Regions from separate parts of the Homo sapiens genome. Here regions 2 and 3 are each linked to region 1. The links come from fine-mapping of genetic effects on gene expression. A gene starts in region 1. Each other region holds a variant in brackets. All regions are shown on one strand. Distances are from middle to middle.

The links. PIP is the estimated chance that this variant, and not a neighbour inherited with it, causes the effect.
Region 2: its variant is the best candidate, but not a certain one, in a credible set for the expression of ZFYVE26 in neutrophils (BLUEPRINT, PIP 0.73).
Region 3: its variant is the best candidate, but not a certain one, in a credible set for the expression of ZFYVE26 in whole blood (INTERVAL, PIP 0.53).

Annotation. Positions count from the first base shown.
Region 1 is chr14:67,814,336-67,821,216 of GRCh38, forward strand. It overlaps ZFYVE26 (zinc finger FYVE-type containing 26), which reads right to left and starts at 2,255. Exons shown (of 42, transcript NM_015346.4): 1 at 2,199-2,255; 2 at 1,435-1,711. The coding sequence starts at 1,628. RAD51B (RAD51 paralog B) reads left to right here and starts at 5,444. Exons shown (of 11, transcript NM_133510.4): 1 at 5,444-5,518. RefSeq lists enhancers at 2,467-2,636, 2,687-2,786, 5,277-5,571, 5,831-6,592.
Region 2 is chr14:67,177,357-67,184,237 of GRCh38, forward strand. GPHN (gephyrin) reads left to right here. Exons shown (of 23, transcript NM_020806.5): 22 at 2,222-2,318; 23 at 3,448-4,447. The coding sequence ends at 3,581. The region is part of intron 1 of LOC105370538 (a long non-coding RNA gene); the gene reads right to left. Among named protein-coding and RNA genes, the nearest start is that of GARIN2, 8.6 kb to the right of the region's middle. The variant C/T (reference allele first, on the strand shown) is at 4,008.
Region 3 is chr14:67,790,719-67,795,718 of GRCh38, forward strand. It overlaps ZFYVE26 (zinc finger FYVE-type containing 26), which reads right to left. Exons shown (of 42, transcript NM_015346.4): 13 at 3,453-3,521; 14 at 2,890-3,041; 15 at 1-55. Among named protein-coding and RNA genes, the nearest start is that of ZFYVE26, 23 kb to the right of the region's middle. The variant C/CAAA (reference allele first, on the strand shown) is at 2,195.

The DNA.
Region 1 (6,881 bases):
TAATGAAACCCCATCTCTACTAAAAATACAAAAATTAGCCAAGTGCGGTGGCAGGCGCCTGTAGTCCCAGCTACTCGGGAGGCTGAGGCAGGAGAATCGCTTGAACCTGGGAGGCGGAGGTTGCAGTGAGCCTAGATCATGCCACTGCACTCCAGCCTGGGTGACAGAGCAAGACTCTGTCTCCAAAACAAACAAACAAACAAACAAACAAACAAACAAATCAGAACCAGAACAGAGCTAGCAGCTTTCATAAAAAGCCTTAATCTCACCTCCACCTCCTTATCTTAGTTTAAAATAAAATAATATTCGAGAAAACCATAATAGCTAATACTATCTGAAGCATATTTTTAATACAGAAAGTGAATCAGACAGTCTTAAAAAAGGAACTTCATACAAATTTATTTTTAACTATATGCTAAAAACAGGACTTTAGGAATTCATAAGCCTTTCTTTGAAGTTAGGAATTTAGACGGTAACTGGCTAGATCTCAAATTAAAGGAGAAAAAGAAAAGGAAGGGATCACTTAAGTTTCTCCATCGTATATGTGCTAATACAATATGTAAACAGTATAGCATAACAGTCAAAGGAAGGAAAACCCAAGGAAAGACTTAAAACGGTACATTTGACTCCTACATCACCAGTGGTTACTAGCATCACCAGGAGGAACTTCATTGAAAATCAAGGATGGAGAACTGTGGTTGCCAGGGAACAAGGAGGGGTTGTTGTATAAATACAAAGAGGTAGCACCAAGGAGTGAGGGAATTCTTTTGTGGTAATGGAACAGTTCTGATCCTTATTACAGTGGGATTACATGAATCTATATATGGATAAAACTGCATAAAACTACAAATGAAAAAATGAAGGCAGATTAAGAAAATGCTGAAAACCAAATAAACTCTGTAGTGTCATTTAAAGTAATGTGCCAATGTCAATTTCATGGTTTTGATATTGTACTACAGCTGTATGAGACGTCGCAATTGGGGCAGACTGGGAAAAGGATACGCTGGACTCCATTATTTTTGCAGCTTCTTGTGAGACTGCAATTATTTCGAAATAAAAAGTTTTAAGTAAAGCGACAACAATATTTTCAATCTCATAAGCAAGAAGAGAGCAGGGTTTGCTTTTTTGGAGGCAAAGAAAATAGTTTTCAATGCAGTTCCACCATCTATATTAACGAGGATAAACAAGAAATGGCAGTTTCAGGCACACTTTGGCAGCCAGGCTTACATTCAGTTGCAGATGATAATCAAAAGCCAATATTGACTAAGTAATGGATGTATACTATAGAGGTAAAATTTCAGAGCACGTGAAATACACTGTGCCTCTGCTTATTCTTCAGAGGGTAGTTGAGTGGGGGCACATTGACCAATGCCCAAATATTGAACCACATGTCTCTCACCCTGGGACCGTCTGGTAGGAAAAGAGATCCCTTACCTCAGCAGATTTGGACACACCACCAATGCCTGAAGTATGTCTTCTACCCTCTTTGGGATATCCCCTTGTCCCTCCTGTAGCTGAGGTACACATGCCTGTGCCAGCTCCCATTCTCCCCTCCGCAGGCATTCGCAGAAAAATCCAAAAAGCTGCTTCTGCGAAGCAGCTTCCTCTTTTCCAAATGGATGATTCATTTTCCCAGCACAGAGTGCAGGGAGATACAAAGAAATGAGTTATGCCGAACACATTCTCAATGTTCTCATTCGCGGAGTACCTCCTAGAAACAACACAACGCCAGTGAGAAGAAACAGAAGGCACTGTATTAAGACAAAGCAGCAACTACTGGTCCGCCTGGGAAAGGCGGGACTTGCTTGCCTAAGTATCGTTTTCAGTTTAATTTCCCACGTTACTTTTTGAAAACACTTTCTTCAAGGGGTGGATCCCATCTCTTCACGCGGATTCCTATATTTAATAATATTAATAGTCATATTTGCTCCGGGCGCAGACCCATAACTCTACGTCCGTATTCCCTACTGAACGTTATGCCCAGTCTTGACTCCAAATCCCCAGGTGGTCGCCTCCTCAAGAATGAGAAATTCAGCAGGAACCTCCCTAGTTTGAGCCCTCTGTTAAGGCAGAGGATTGACGACCAGGAGACGAATCTGTGTCATAAGTGGAAAGCAGTGTGGGGGTGGGCCGCAGGGACGCTCTCTGCGGGGGTCGTGGAGAGGGGCCCCTCCCTCTCAGGGGTGTCTTACACTCACCTGCTCCCGGCGCCCAAAGCAATAGAGCTCTCAGCGCAGCCATGTTTGAGCCGAGTCAGGTGACAGAACCCACTCCGAACAGCGGTGGTGGGGGTGGTGACAAAGACTGAAAGCCCCACTCCTATTGGCTCAAGGCAGGGAAGATGAAAATTAAGTGCCATATTTGTTTGAGTCACGTGACGCCACCTCTCCGGGAGTAGGGAAAGCTAGAAAGCTCGGAAAGAGGAAATCAGCTACCTGGCTGCGGACCATCTCCCTCAATTGTGACAGCTCCGGCGCTCAATACTTTCAGTTCTGCATTCGGCCGAGCAGGTGGCAGGAAGAACTGTGACCCTGGATTTTTTTTTTTCTTCCACTCTCTTATCTCCTTAACATGTGAAGTCAACATTTATTGAACGCCAACCAGTGATGGTGTTTTGCCAGGCGCGGGGGATACCCGGAGCTAGGAGAACTGGGTTCTCCTCCATTATTATTCTATCTACTGGGCTCTTTTGTTCCGGAACTCTGCGGTCTGAATTTCCATATTCTTCTGCTTCACTCCATTCATTTATTTGCACATTTACCCTACAACTGTTAATTGAACGGTGTGCTAGGCTTTATTTTATTTTTTTAGAGACAGAGTCTCTCTGTCGCTGGAGTGCGGTGGTGTGATCTCGGCTCATGGCAGCCTCGAACTTCCTGGATCAAGTAATCCTTAAGCCTCAGCCTTCCTGTAGTAGCTGGGACTAGAGGCGCGCGCCACTACACCGGGCTTAGGCCCTATTCTCTAAGTTGAGTAAATGGAGGTCCTTCTTCTCAAGGGAGATGCAGGCCAAAAATTAGGAGACGGTGGGCTAAATTATAAGACAGAAGTATGCATAAGAGATCAGAGAGCAAAGAATGAGCAAAGGCTTTTTCGCAAACACAATAATCTGAAACCAAGTCTTTTGTTTTGAGACAGAGTCTCGCTCTGTCTCCCAGGCTGGAGTGCAATGGCGCGATCTCGGCTCGCTGCAACCTCCGTCTCCCGGGTTTAAGCGATTCTCCTGCCTCAGCCTCACTGTGTAGCTGGGATAAGCGATTCTTCTGCCTCAGCCTCACTGAGTAGCTGGGATTTACAGGCGCGCGCCACCACACCCGGCTAATTTTTGTATTTTTAATAGAGACAGGGGTTCACCATGTTGGCCAGGCTGGTCTCGAACTCCTGACCTCAGGCAATCCGCCCACCTCGGCCTCCCAAAGTTCTGGGATTACGGGCGTGAGCCACCGTTCCCAGCCTGAAACCAACTCTTGAAGTAACGGCTTACTAGGTTTGCTCACCACAGCTGCCTTACACCAAGCCTTTTGTTTGGTTTCCCTGGTGTGCTTTAATCACAGACTCTCAGCTTTCCTCACTATGTGTGTTTCAGGTTTAGTAATTTCATTCAGCATTTCCCAAACTATTTAATCACCAAAGGGTGGTGAAAAGAGCAAGTTAAAACAAACAAAACGTTTTCTTCCAAAAACTCTTCTGTGATTGGTGGATTGTCCTCGATTCCTGAGAAAAGTAACATGGCTTTCTGGCCCATTAAGGTTTTTTTTTTTTTTGAGGCAATGTCTGGCTCCTCTCACCTCAGCCTCCCAAGTAGCTGGGATCACAGGTGCCTGCCACCATGTCTGGCTAATTTTTGTATGTTTAGTAGAGGCGGGGTTTCGCCATGTTGGCCAGGCTGGTTTCGAAATCCTGAGCTCAAGTGATCTGCCTGCCTCAGCATTCCGAAGTGAAACCGCCTTTGCAAAATTATAACTGAGGAAATTATGACAGTGAAAGAAATCAGACCTAACCGACTCTATCTTGCTTCTAACCGTTAAGCTGTCCTTGTTCATTCCTGGGCGTAGGCTGAACTAACTTTGGGGAGGAATTCAGTTCATGGTTTGACTCTGAAACAAAATTGATAACAGCCCTTTCCGAAAAGACCCACTTCTTGCCTGGGGACCAGTCTGCCTTTGCAGGACTAACAAATTAGCTACAAGTTTAGAAATTACAGTTTAGAGGTCATGCAGCCTCTGGCTCCAAGAGTCTGAACCTCCCCAAATTGCTCCCGGGGGTGACATCACTATTGCAAGCCCTAAGATCAGTGCTTGAGATATTTTGTAGACCCTGCACTCCATGGATCAGCTGACACCACTCAGACCAGTAATTTGGCGCAACCAGTTTTGCCATCACACCCAGGAACAGAAGACATTAAGAAAACCTCACTTCGACCCCTTATGATTCCATCTCCAACCTGACCAATCAGCACTCCCCACTTCCTAAGCCCCTACCAGCCAAATTATTGGTAAAAACTCCGATCCGCAAATGCTCGGGACAACTGATTTAAGTAACAATAAAACTTCAGTCTTCCGCACAGCTGGCTCTGCGTGAATTACTCTTTCTGCATTGCAATTCCCCTGTCCTGATAAATCGGTTCTGTCTAGGCAGCTGGTAAGGTGAACCCATCGGGCAGTTTCAAAAGTGCTGGGATTACAGGCATGAGCCACCGCGCCCAGCCTATTTTTTGTATTTTTTTGTAGAGGCGGAGGGGTGGGGGAGGGTGTCTCACTATGTTGCCAAGGCTAGTCTCGAACTCCCAGGCTCAAGTGATCCTCCCGCCTCGGTCTCCCAAAGTGCTGAAATTACGGGCGTGAGCCACTGCGTCTGGCCCCTTTAAGCCATTGTGAAAAGTGATGATACACGAAAAAAAAGATTTCCAGGGCCGAGAGCGGTGGATCACGCCTGTAATCCCAGCGCTTTGGGAGGCCGAAGCGGGCGGATCACGAGGTCAGGAAATCGAGACCATCCTGGCTAACACGGTGAAACCCCGTCTCTACTAAAAATACAAAAAAATTAGCCGGGCGTGGTGGTGGGAGCCTGTAGTCCCAGCTACTAGGGAGGTTGAGGCAGGAGAATGGCGTGAACCCAGGAGGCGGAGCTTGCAGTGAGCCGAGATCGCGCCACTGCACTCCAGCCTGGGCGACAGAGCGAGACCCCGTCTCAAAAAAAAAAAAAAAGAAAGAAAAAAGAAAAATTTCCAAACAGGGTGTTCCCTTGTTTCACATTCTCTTTGGTGATGGTCCTGCAACAGATTTTGATAATCACTATATTGAGAAACTGCTTCAGATTCGATCTGTTAGGCTGATCATAGTATTAACTACAATTCCCAGCAAGCCGCGGAGCCAACCTGGGCCTCTGCCGGCCTCTGATTGGATACAGTAGCCAGAATGACGACTCAATCAGTGCTTCGGTTGTTGCTTTGCGGCGTTTTCCGCGGGGAAACTGTGTAAAGGGTGGGGAAACTTGAAAGTTGGATGCTGCAGACCCGGTACTGGAAAGTTTCATGTGGGGTGCCGTTGTGGGGAAGTGGGGTTCGCTCATTATTTCCTGCTCCTTCCCTAGGCTCGTGGGTTTCGATATTGGGGGAGCGGAGATTTTCTCTTGGGTGCTGGTCACGCCCCCTTAAGACTCGGGATCGTCACTAAGAACCCCGCTGTGAATTGGGGGAGCTTCGGGCCTTCTTTTGGTGGGGAATGCTTGGAAGCTGCTCATTGTTGGAAAAAGCTCTTTTTAGGGGATTCTGGGTGATGTTTCCGCCTGTTGCTGCCCATCTTCCTCCCCAGCCCCTTCCCGCTTCGGGCAGCCTGTCATTAGGGGAAGTTGAGGGACTCTCCCACTTCAGGTGGTGTTGGAGAGCGTGGAATCTGGAGTCCGGTCCCTGGATTCGAATGCGAGCTTCACACCAATTGTCAGCTGTTTAACTTTGCCCAAGTTTCTCAACTAGTTACCTCAGTATCCTTATCTGTAAAGTGAGGTAAAATATCCGAAGCCTTTGGAACAGTGTGGCACGTAATAAGGGCTCAATAAATATTAGCTAATATTGTTCCTAAACAGTTGTTGAACATCTAACATGAAGAATTTTCTTTTCTTGGTGGTAAGGAGGACAGGGTTCATTCTCCAGGGTTGACCGTCTCCCCTCATGTGCAATACACATACGTGCTTTCGCGCACACATACACCGCAGGAATTTACGTGCTCCGGTGGGGGCAAACAAACTTGCAAGCCATAATAGTATTTTGATAAGATTATCGAATAGATATGTGCGAAGTTGATGAGAACATTGGAGAGGAAAAGACTTGACTCTGGGGAAGGTTTTGTGGAGGGAAGTCAGGGAGACAGGATGCGTGACCTACCAATACACATACCATGTGGCTGGAGGGCAGATCATGTGAGAGTCATTAAATGATGATTGCTGACCTTAAGTACTATGTGCCACGCACTCCCCGAGTCCTTTAACCTCCACTACAGTCATATGAAGTAGTAAATTCATATGACTGTAAAACAAGGGTTTTAAGGAAATTAAGACACTGAGAGGTGAAGTAACTGCCAGGAAGGATAGGAACTGAACGTTGCAATGTGATGTATGAGTGAGAAGGAAGTGAGGGACCAATTTTTGATGTTTTTCTCTGCGACCCTAAGAAGTTTGGAATTTATCCTGTGGTCTACCAGTCCCATGGGAAGTGTTAAAGGATAATCGTGACTTTTTAGGAAGCTACTCAAGGCAGGATTGTGACACTGATCTGACTTTTGCAGGCGAATTTGGGGCTTCTTCCTGTCTGCTTCCATAGCACTTTTAAATAGCAATTGTAATGCTTACTGCATGGCTGTAGTTATTTGTGTGTACCTCTCTTT
Region 2 (6,881 bases), 640 kb before region 1:
GGTTGTTCAGTTTCCATGTAGTTGTGTGGTTTTGAGTAAGTTTCTTAATCCTGAGTTCTAATTTGATTGCACTGTGATCTGAGAGACAGTTTGTTGTGATTTCTGTTCTTTTGCATTTGCTGAGGAGTGTTTTACTTCCAATTATGTGGTCAATTTTAGAATCAGTGCGATGTGTTGCTGAGAAGAATGTACATTCTGTTGATTTGGGGTGGAGAGTTCTGTAGATGTCTATTAGGTCTGCTTGGTCCAAAGCTGAGTTCAAGTCCTGGATATCCTTGTTACTTTTCTGTCTTGTTGATCTGTCTAATATTGACAGTGGGGTGTTAAAGTCTCCCATTATTATTGTGTGGGAGTCTAAGTCTCTTTGTAGGTCTCTAAGAGCTTGCTTTATGAATCTGGGGGCTCCTGTATTGGGTGCATATATATTTAGGATAGTTAGCTCTTCTTGTTGAATTGATCCCTTTACCATTAAGTAATGGCCTTCTTTGTCTCTTTTGATCCTTGTTGGTTATCAGAGACTAGGATTGCAACCCCTGCTGTTTTTTGCTTTCCATTTGCTTGTTAGATCTTCCTCCAAATGTTTATTTTGAGCCTATTTGTGTCTTTGCATGTGAGATGGGTCTCCTGAATACAGCACACCGATGGGTCTTGACTGTCCAATTTGCCAGTCTGTATCTTTTAATTGGGGCATTTAGCCCATTTATATTTAAGGTTAATATTGTTATGTGTGAATTTGATCCTGTCATTATGATGCTAGCTGGTTATTTTGCCCATTAGTTGATGCAGTTTCCTCATAGCATCAATGATCTTTACAATTTGGCATATTTTTGCAGTGGCAGGTACCAATTATTCCTTTCCATGTTTAGTGCTTCCTTCAGGAGTTCTTGTAAGGCAGGCCTGGTGATGACAAGGCTCCCAGCATTTGCTTGTCTGTAAAGGATTTTATTTCTCCTTCATTTATGAAGCTTAGTTTGGCTGGATATGAAATTCTGGGTTGAAAATTCTTTTCTTTAAGAATGTTGATTATTGGCCCCCACTGTCTCCTGGCTTGTAGGGTTTCTGCTGAGAGATCCACTGTTATTTTGATGGGCTTCCCTTTGTGGGTAATCCGACCTTTCTCTCTGGCTGCCTTTAACATTTTTTCCTCCATTTCAACCTTGGTGAATCTGACGATTATGTGCCTTGGGGTTGCTCTTCTGGAGGAATATCCTTGTGGTGTTCTCTGTATTTCCTGAATTTGAATCAACAAATATTTTTATCATCAGAGTCCAGAAGAAGAAGAGAAGGGAAAGAGGATAGGAAATTTATTTAATGAAATACTAGCTGAAAAACTTCCCAAATCTGTTGAGAGATATAGACATCCAGATCCAGGAAGTTCAAAGGTCTCCAAATGTATTCAACCCAAAAGATCCTTCCCAATTTGTCAAAAGTTAAAGACAAAGAATTATAATAACAGCAAAAGAAAAGCATCAAGTCACATACAAGGAAGTCCACATTAGACTAGCAGTAGATTTATCTGCAGAAACCTTAAGGCCAGAAGGGAAGGGAATGATGTATGTAAAGTGCTGAAAGAAAAAAAAAATGCCAACCAGAAATACTATATGCAGCAAAGCTATCCTTCAGGAATGAGGGAGAAATAAAGCCTTTCCCAGACAGACAAAAGCTGAACTCCAGCTTCTTAGCCTTCTTTTCTCTTTTCACCAGAGCAACCCAACCCCTAGACTTCCTGTATTAAGAATATAAGGTGGCCAGGCATGGTGGCTCATGCCTATGATTCCAGCACTCTGGGAGGCCCAGGTGGCAGGATCGCTTGAGCCCAGGAGTTCAAGACCAGCCTGAGCAACATAGCAAGATGCCATCTCTAAAAATAAAAATAAAAATTATTCAGGTATGGTGGCACATGCATGTGGTCCCAGCTACTCAGGAGGCCAAGGCAGGAGGATCACTGGAGCCCAGGAGGTCAAGGCTGCAGTGAGCTATGATCATGCCACTGCACTCCAGCCTGGGTAACAGAGTGAGACCTTGTGTCAAAAGAAAAAATACATTTTTAATTAAATTTTATTTAAAAAGAAAAAGAACATAAGGTGGTAGTGACAGCAACGACAGAATACCAAGGTTAGTCTCCATGTCCACTGTATTCTTTGCACAACCCCTACTATCTTGTATTTTTGTGAGATGATCAGGTGACCAAGTTTGTTTTCTTTTCTACTTTATTCTGTAGTTATCATGTGATGTAAAACTTGATCCTCGTCCAGAATACCATCGGTGTATACTAACTTGGCATCACCAAGAACCACTACCTTGGGCACAGAGTACAGGTTAGTCATTCACATCTACAGATATTCCTAGACACCTATCCTGTTAAAACACAAACTTATATATAATCTTCCTTGGTTATGACTGATTTTGTAATTATTATACATTTTTCTTTTTGAAAAGTTAGATGAGTTAAGTTATTCCTAAACAGTATAGCAAAAGTTAAAAAATAACTATTAGAAGTTTACTTATTTTATTGAGCCATATTTTCTAGATAAACATTTAGAATGTCCACATATCATTGACTAATGTCCTGTAATAAATCTGGAATTACAGAAGATTTGATATGTTTGTTCAACCAATAAGTTCTGAGTATAACTTTGTAGGAAAAGGAGGAGATTCTAGCTATACCATCTTGAAATGTGAGATGAAAGCCCAATTTATAATTTGATTCTCTGTAGCCTCTACCATACGCTAGTTATTGGTAAATTTGAAGGGCAGAGAAATCAATATTGATAATGCAGAGTTCTACAGTAACCTTCACTAGACTTTAAACTGTTATTCCCAACTTCCCTACTCATATTTTGCCTAATTTTTGATGTGACTCCAGAAAAGTTGTAGTACTCTTTAAACAAAGATCCTACCAAGTGAAAACGTCAACTAACAGCGACTAAGTTCATGGGCTTTGCCATCAGAGAGAACTGCATTCAAACTGGCCACCAACCTACTTAGCAGGACCCTAGGCAAGTTACCTAAAAATTTTTTGAGTCTTGTGAGAATCAAATAAGGTGTTTAAGTAAAGTGCCTAGTACTTTGGCACTCAGTAAAGAAATGGTAGCTGCTACCATTATTGTCATTATTATTTTAATACTTTTTTTAAAGCCTCCCTTTTCAGACACGCATAACATTTCAGCCTGAATTGAGAAATTCTATGGCATTTTGCATAATGCTATAAAATCCTGGTTTTACTCTTTCAAGCAAGAATTTCTAATGTTTATTTTTAAAGTTTGAATGAGAAGGTGGTAGGATATAATAGCATGGCCACCTGAAAAAGGTACTGGAAAGTTTGATCATCCCTTCTCCTCTTGAAGACCCGCATTTCTGTCTGTTTACATTTTGAAAAGGTCTACAAGGGCCCAACTGTATACGCCATGATGCTTATGCTGCTGTAATAAGAGTATTTCTTTCTAGGTAATCAAATGAGCAGCCGTCTGATGAGCATGCGCAGTGCCAATGGATTGTTGATGCTACCTCCAAAGACAGAACAGTACGTGGAGCTCCACAAAGGCGAGGTGGTGGATGTCATGGTCATTGGACGGCTATGATGGTCACCAGCAGGAGAAAGCTTTGATGCATGTCCACATATCATTGACTGTATCCTGTAATATGCAACGGCACAGCTAGTTTTCCCGATTTGGATAAAAGTTGATCTGTATAGTCAACATCTTGAACTATATTTCAAATGAATTTAAATATCTTTTAAAGAAAAAAACACCTAAAAATAAATCTTAACAGAAAATTCTGTTCTGATTATATCAAGGCAAATTTTTCCTTTCTTGCAAATTGCTTTGTGTGTTCAATGCTAGGTCTGATAGCGATAGCTTTTAGTAGACAGCGGTAGGTGCCTGCAGAACTTGTGTTTTTCTCATCTTTAAAATACAACTACTTATGCTCTTAAATCAAGGCTGTCTGCTTATTTATACTAGCGTAGGCAACACTTGGATTTCCCTTCTTAGTATGCTTCATAACTG[C/T]TTTACAGAGAGCTTTTGCTTGTTCTTTCTCATGTATCTCGTGTTTATGTGCACAGTGCCAAAAGAAGACTGACTGGGTGGAGGCTCTGCCTTGCCTCAAGAACCATCCCCTGCAGAGCATCCAGGGAGGTTTCTCGCCCCAATAGCCTCACGGCACAGTACTCTTGGGCAGTAACTGGACACCTTTTATTTGAAGAAACAAACTGAAGAAAAAATGCTTCCTTAAGTGCTGACAGCCTTTTTAACCAATACATTTAAAATTGTACAGAACAAAAAAATAAAATCAAAGACTGATCTTGTACAGATATTAGTGTTACCAGCATTCATGTGGAAATCAAGAGCAAAGACAAAATAATGTTAAACAATTCTGTACCATAACATTTTCTGTAATGATACTGAAACTTAATGAATAAAAAAATTCCTTGATCATTATTTAAAAATGTAATGTGTTGGCCTCGTTATTTAAAGAGAGAAGATTGTCATGCCATTCTGATAGGGTTCTGCCTGAATAAAAGAAATGGTTAAGATGGCCTACCAAGAATATTTAAAATATGGTATATTGTAACTCTGTATCTTACTACAATATGTGGGGAAAAATGTGATCATAGCATTATGATCTGTAGTGTGTGAAAATACAGATGAGAAGGAAGGAGAACCTGCAGTTGGTCTCGTCTTTCCAGTCATAGCTGGAGAATAGCAAGCAAATTTAGAGGAAGGGTACTAATGACTTAGAAAAAAAATAATTCTTATTTTAGACGCCATAAAATCCAATTTCAAACATCTACAGTTCTTTGAAATGGAGAAAAAAATAAGCAATGAAACAAAAAATTACAGATGAGCGCCTCGAAATTTTTAACCGTGTTAGAAAGGAAGTGAGAAATGGCAAAAAATATCTGTGCTGACCATAGAAAACACAATAGGTAAAATATACTGTATCCACAATGGATCCTTTAATAAAAACTTAGGGGCACTTTTCAAATGGTGGTAACAGGAAGATGTTAAATATACTGTAAAATGTGCTCAGGAAAGCAAACTACAAAAATTGGCCTACTAGTAAACAAAATGTCAAGGGATGGTAAATAAAGGCAAAATAGTAAACAAATATTTGATACTGATATGTGATATTTTCATTCATATTTACAGTTGAAGAAGATAAGGTTAGTTAATAGAGGTCAAATGAAAGAGTATGCAAATAATCCTTTTATGTACATTCATTCAAGAAATATTTGTTAAGCATCTATTATGTGCTTGGGTACAAAGTATATCATGCTACTATTTACAAACATGAATAGGGCAGAGCACCTGACCTTACACTTCATTAGGGAGATAACAAAATGCAAGCAAATAACCACGATATTTAATATATTTGATAATATATAGTAGAGTGTATAGAATGTGATAAATGCCATAATACAGATTTTAAGGGTTGGAAGAATTCAGATGAGATTTCAAGGAGTAAGATGGCATGTTAGTGGGTCTTTTTTTTTTTTTTTTTTTGTAGAGGCACAGTCTTGCTCTACTGCTCAGGATAGAGTGCAGTAGCATGGTCCTAGTGCACTACAGCCTCGAACTCCTGGCCTCAAGTGATCCTCCTGCATCAGACTCCGAAAGTGCTGGAATTACAGTTGTGAGACACCATGCCCAGCTGATGCTATTGGGTCTTGAAGGAAGGTAGAATTTTGAAGATGATAGCACAGGAAAAAGAGTATTCCAAAAACAGAGAATGACAGGTAATTAATGATAATTATTTTATTATAGGATAATTTCTATACCTGTAATATAAGAAGAACAACAATTATAGGGGTGTCGTGGAAATTAAACATATGAAATGTGCTGAGAGCAGTGCTTGTCATGTATTAAGCTCCACAAAGGTAGAGATTTTTGTTTATTTTGTTCACTCCAGTTATCCCCAAATTCCTAGAAGAGTCTGGCATATGTGCATATATGCAAGCATCAGTAAATATTTGCTCAATAAAACACATTATGTAGAACTTACTGTAGGCCAGGCATTGTCCTAAACACTTTACATATGTTCAATTTTCACAACCCTATAAGCATTGTTTTTCCTGTATTATAGATGAGGATACTGAGGCACAGAGATTAAGAAACTTGTCCATGGTCACATAGATAGTAGGAGAGAGAGCAAGGATTCAAGTTTAGCAATCTGACTCTACAGTCTATATTCTTTTATTATTTTTATTTTTATTTTTATTTTTTGAGGTGGAGTCTTGCTCTTGTCACCCAGGCTGGAGTGCAGTGGCGCGATCTCAGCTCACTACAATCTCCACCTCCCGGGTTCAAGCAATTCTCCTGCCTCAGCCTCCCAAGTAGCTAGGATTACAGGCATGCACCGCCAGGCCCAGCTAATTTTTCTATTTTTAGTGTAGATGGGGTTTCACCATTTTGACCAGGCTGGTCTCAAACTCCTGACCTCAGGTGATCCGCTGGGATTACAGGCGTGAGCCACCGTGCCCCACATCTATTCTGTTTTTCTTTTCTTTTTTTTTTTAATAGGGTTTCACTCTGTCGCCCAGGCTGGAGTGCAGTGGCATGATCTCAACTCACTGCAGCCTTGACCTCCCTGGGCTCAAGTGATCCTTCCATCTCAGCCTCCTGAGTAGCTGGGACTACCCATCACACCTGGCTAATTTTTTTATATTTTGCAGAGACAGGCTGGTCTTGAACACCTGGGCTCAAGTGATCCGCCCATCTCAGCCTCCCACAGTGCTGGAGTTACAGGCATGAGCCACCACACTCAGCCTACAGTCTATCTTCTTTAAGTTACAGAAACAAAATAGGTATAAGATGTTTGTAAGACTGAAAAAGTACTGATTTAAGGCCCAAAAGTTATTAAAGTTATTAAAGTTAATTTGG
Region 3 (5,000 bases), 25 kb before region 1:
TGAACATCAGTTCCCCTGAACTGGGTGAGGACTTCAGGTTGAACGTGAACAGCACCTGTCATAGGAGAGGGAGTGTGTGGGCCCTGGTGGTCCCACTGATTTAGGGAATGTCCATGGATAGGAGATCTTGCCAACCATTAGACTGTGGCCCTAAGATGTCTTTGTGCTTTGTAGGGTCAGAAGAGCACTGAATGTTAGAAGAGCAGGTCAACTATAAAAAATAATTCATAAAAGTAAGAAAACCACCAAAGCCTCAGTAGAAAATAGGCAAAAGATGTGGACAATTTCAGAGGAAATATATATGACTAATATATAAATGAGAAAATATTTTTTCCCTTGTCAGTAATCTAGGAATTTAAGTAACAATAACATTTTGCATCTATCACAATAACAAAGCACAAAAATAAATCCTCAGGAGATGGTGTAACATTAAGTGTCACAACTTTTTTGAAAAGCAATTTGGCAATCCATAAAGCTTTAAAAATGTTTACATCTTTTGACTCAGTAGTTTTTATGAGGAACTTTCTTAAAAAAATAATTCAAAAGGCTTAATGCCTAAACGTAATCACCTTGGCACTATATATTACAACTATTACAAGGTTAAAAATAATCTAAATCTTGAGCAACAGGAAAATGGTTAAATGCAGCTACTTGATCAGACTATTGTAAGGTCACTAAAATCAAGGTTAAAAGACAAATGCTAATATTAAAATGTAAAAATGCATGATATAAAGTTTTAGATTTGAAATAATCTCAGCTATATAAAAGTCATACATATTTTGGAGAAATATTGGCCAAAAAAATAAATTTTTAATATTGGTTGTTCCATACTATAGGGTTAAAAGTAATTTTATTTTCTTGTTAATACTTTCTGATATTGTCGTATATGTACAACTTATTCTGTCTGTATCCAGGTCAAAAAATAAAAGTTTTTATTGAAAAAAAAAAAAAAGACCACGGCTCAAGAAAAGGAGGAGAAGTGGAGGACATTTAGGGGTAAAATATCATGGGACTCCTAGCTAAATTCCTCTGGATTTGAGTATTAGAAAGGCTGGGGAGGGGCTGGCGTGGTGGCTCGTGCCTGTAATCCCAGCACTTCAGGAGGCCAAGGAGGGTGGATCATTTGAGGTCAGGAGTTCAAAACCAGCCTGGCCAACATGGTGAAACCCCGTCTCTATTAAAAATATAAAAATTAGCCAGGAGTGGTGGTGTGCACCTGTAGTCCCAGCTACTCAGGAGGCTGAGGCAGGAGAATCGCTTGATCCCAGGAGGCAAAGACTGCAGTGAGCCGAGATCGAGCCACTGCACTCCAGCCTGGGTGAGAAAGTGAGACTCTGCTTCAAAAAAAAAAAAAAAGAAAAAGAAAGGCTGGGGCTGGGGAGGGTCCTATCCTCCTCCAAGGATCATAATTATAATTATCATTAAAGTATAAGATCTAAAATGATCAGAGAAGGTTAAGTAAAAATTGTCCTGTTACCTAGAGTTCCCTAGATTTATTCCTCAAAAACTGAACTCACATGAAAGAACAATTCTGACCTACATGTTACGTAGATAAACTACCAAATACTTTACTACCAGTAAAAGTATCATTAATATGCCAAGAGGGTTTTAAAAATTAGAAGAGTACTATTTTATGTTATTAAGTTTAATAACTTGTTATTAAGTTTAATCAATAGTAGAGGATTTTTATATTTCTCACGGCTAGAACATAATCCTCTTAACATTCCTATGAGGTAGAAAAACCAGGTATTACATTTAACTCCAATTTTCAAATGAGGAAACCAAAGCTCAGAGAGGTTCAGTCTTTCTGATTACCATTCCAGTGCTATTTTCTCTCTACAATACAAATATTCTAGTCTGCTAGCTCTCCATACTTCTTGTATATTGAACTGGCATTCTATTTATAATTGAGACTGGGCGCAATGGCTCATGCCTGTAATCCCAGCATTTTGGGATGCCGAGGCGGGTGGATCTCCTGAGGTCAGGAGTTTGAGACCAGCCTGACAAACATCGCAAAACCTCATCTCTACTAAAAATACAAAAATTAGCCAGATATGGTGGTGCATGCCTGTAATCCTAACTACTCGGGAGGCTGAGGCAGGAGAATCGGTTGAACATGGGAGGTGGAGGTTGCAGTGAGCTGGGATCGCGCCACTGCACTCCAGCAGCCTGGGTGACAAAAGCAAATCTGTCT[C/CAAA]AAAAAAAAAAAAAAAAAAAAAGAAAAGGAAATTGTATTATAATTTTTAACTAGATAAAAACATGGGCTGGGTGTGGTGGCTCATGCCTGTAATCCCAGCATTTTGGGAGGCTGAGGCAGGTAGATCACTTGAGGTCAGGAGTTCGAGACCAGCCTGGCCAACATGGCAAAACCCTGTCTCTACTAAAAATACAAAAATTAGCCTGGTGTGGTGGGCACCTGTAATCCCAGCTGCTTGGGAGGCTTAGGCAGGAGAATCGTTTGAACCTGGGAGGTGGAGGGTGCAGTGAGCAGAAATCGTGCCACAGCACTCCAGCCTGGGCAACAGAGCAAGACTCTGTCTCAAACAAACAAACAAACAAACAAGCAAACAAACAAAAACCCATGTATATGTTCAGAGAAGGAGTCAAGGAGAGAAACAAAAGTTTCCATGCTTTTAAGTGGTGGGAGTGTGGCTGAATATTTTCTTTCACCTTTTAAAAACACTGCTTATGTTAAGAACCACAAACAATTCACTATCTTTCAATCCACCCTGCTGAAGACTGGGCCTGGGCACATGGAAACCCCCTCTTGCTTCTGCTTCTTCTGCTTGATGTGGACCCCTGAGTGCTCCCAGGTGGCTCTGGTTGTACATGCTCCGAGCCTTACCTGATGCTAAGTCATTCAGGGGCTGAAAAGGTATGGCCTCCCCTCACCTGATGGGCTTCTGCGAAGTTCCCGCGAAGGATGCAGGATGCCAGCAGTGACTCAGGTGGGGAGAACATCATGGGGATGAGTGAACTTTGAGGATGGGGGTGCAATCTACTGTGCAGCTCATTCCGGCCAGACATGGCACTCAGACTTCCCTCTGTTGGGACACAAGAATGTGTGGGGCCAGAGAAGCAAGAGGAATTAAGGAAATGCTATATTGCTGCCACCTCCCACCAAACTTTTATCTCCTCAATGTCCTTCTGTAAAAGGCCTGTAAATAGGTCTTAATTTTTCCTCAAATGAAGGGCAAACCTATGCTACCATCTTTGAATAGAAGATGCTAAGTGCCAACTACCTTCTTTGGGTATTTACCTCTATTTCTCTCTGTTGCTGGATAACTAAATTGAGAATGAAACAGTCCTTTCCCTTCTCCCAGCTAAAATCTGGCCATCTGCCAACCTTGAATAACAACCTTGACTGCTCAATCCTGGCTTTACACCATGGTGTATGGCAACTCTATATCAGGGCAAAGCTGCTCAAAGTTGGCAACTGGTGGAAATCTGCATACCTGACGTACTTGTGCTCAGCTCACTACTTGTACTTTCCAGGGATGGGTTTGAACCTCTGTCTCGGCCATCTACAGGTATTGGGAAGAAGAGAGAAAGTCAATTATCAGCTCCTTATAGAGTAGGAAGTGTGAAGTTGGCTTGACAGCCAAGATCTGTGTAGTTAGAGACAGAGGATAATGAATAACTATGACACCTGCTGCTCCTTCTACAGCAAAACACAAGCTCCTATAGACCAAAGGCAAAGGGTGGGCTGAATATGGCAACAGAGTTCACCTGGGTAATAGCCTATACCAGTGGTTCCCAACCTGTGGGTCTCAGAGCCCCAAGAACTTTCAAGTTATTTTTAGGGGTCAGTGATCAGCACCTGCTCAGTAAGCACTGGCAGTATTCTGAAAAAATAAAAGCACAACTGTTATGACCAGGGAGTGGTAGGGACACAGTATTTCCTGACATAGAAAAAGGTATCTTCATACTTGAAAAGGCAGACAACTGGCTGGGTGCAGTGGCTTACACCTGTAATCCCAGCACGTTGGGAGGCCGTTGTAGCAGGATAGCTTGAGGCCAGGAGTTTGAGACCAGCCTGGGCAACACTGCAAGACCCCGTCTACACAAAAAATTAAAAACAAATTAGTTGGGCAAGGTGGCATGCACCTGTAGTCCCAGCTACCCAGGAGGTTGCGGCAGGAAGGATTGTTTGAGCCCAGGAGTTCAAGGTTACAGTGAGCTATGATTGTGCCACTGCACTTCAGCCTGGGTGACAGAGCAAGACCCTATCTGTATTAAAAAAAATGTAGGGAACCAAAGTCTAAGACCTGGCTGGCCAAAGACCATGATATTCAAAGTCTCAGAGAAAAAGCTTCTCTCTTCTCAACACCAGGCTTCCTAACATGTTAGAGCTTTCTAACAGAGGCTCGCTATTCCTTAGCCTGGTCATTCGAGGGGCTGTCTCAGCCTCATGCAAGGGAGGCACCTCAGTTCACTGTTTGGAAGCCCTTTAGAAGGAACAGCCGTAGAAGAGATGATGGGTTGTGCATTCTTGTGCTGAATGGGTCAAGTGGATGCAAACTCTGCCTTCTGACCCAAAACAATTAATGTAGCAGCTTAAGGGACTTAGCAACGCAACCTTGAAGCTTTCTCTCACGGCATCCTCCGCCCCACCCAGTATGCTCACCTTTCATGTTGCCACTTAGCTAGAGCCTACTCATTCTCTGGAGCTTGGTTCAAGAGTCAACTCCTTCATGAAATCTGTTGCCCTGACATCTGCAGGTCATGCTGATATCCTCTTTTAAGACATTTCTTCTGTTTTCAGGCAGGGTCGCAGGTCACTTTAAACTTTCCATGTATACTATCTAAGCAGGTACATTACAAATTGTTCGAAGTCAAAAGCCTAGCTTGTGCCTCATTTACCTCCCTCAAGATACCTAGTATTGTTTAGCCCATGGGAAATCCTCATGAATTCCTTTTAATTTTTAAAAGATCAACACCAAAAGCCATAATGAAAACTTGATTCTCTAAAAATTTAATACTCCTGCATAATGCGCCTATAT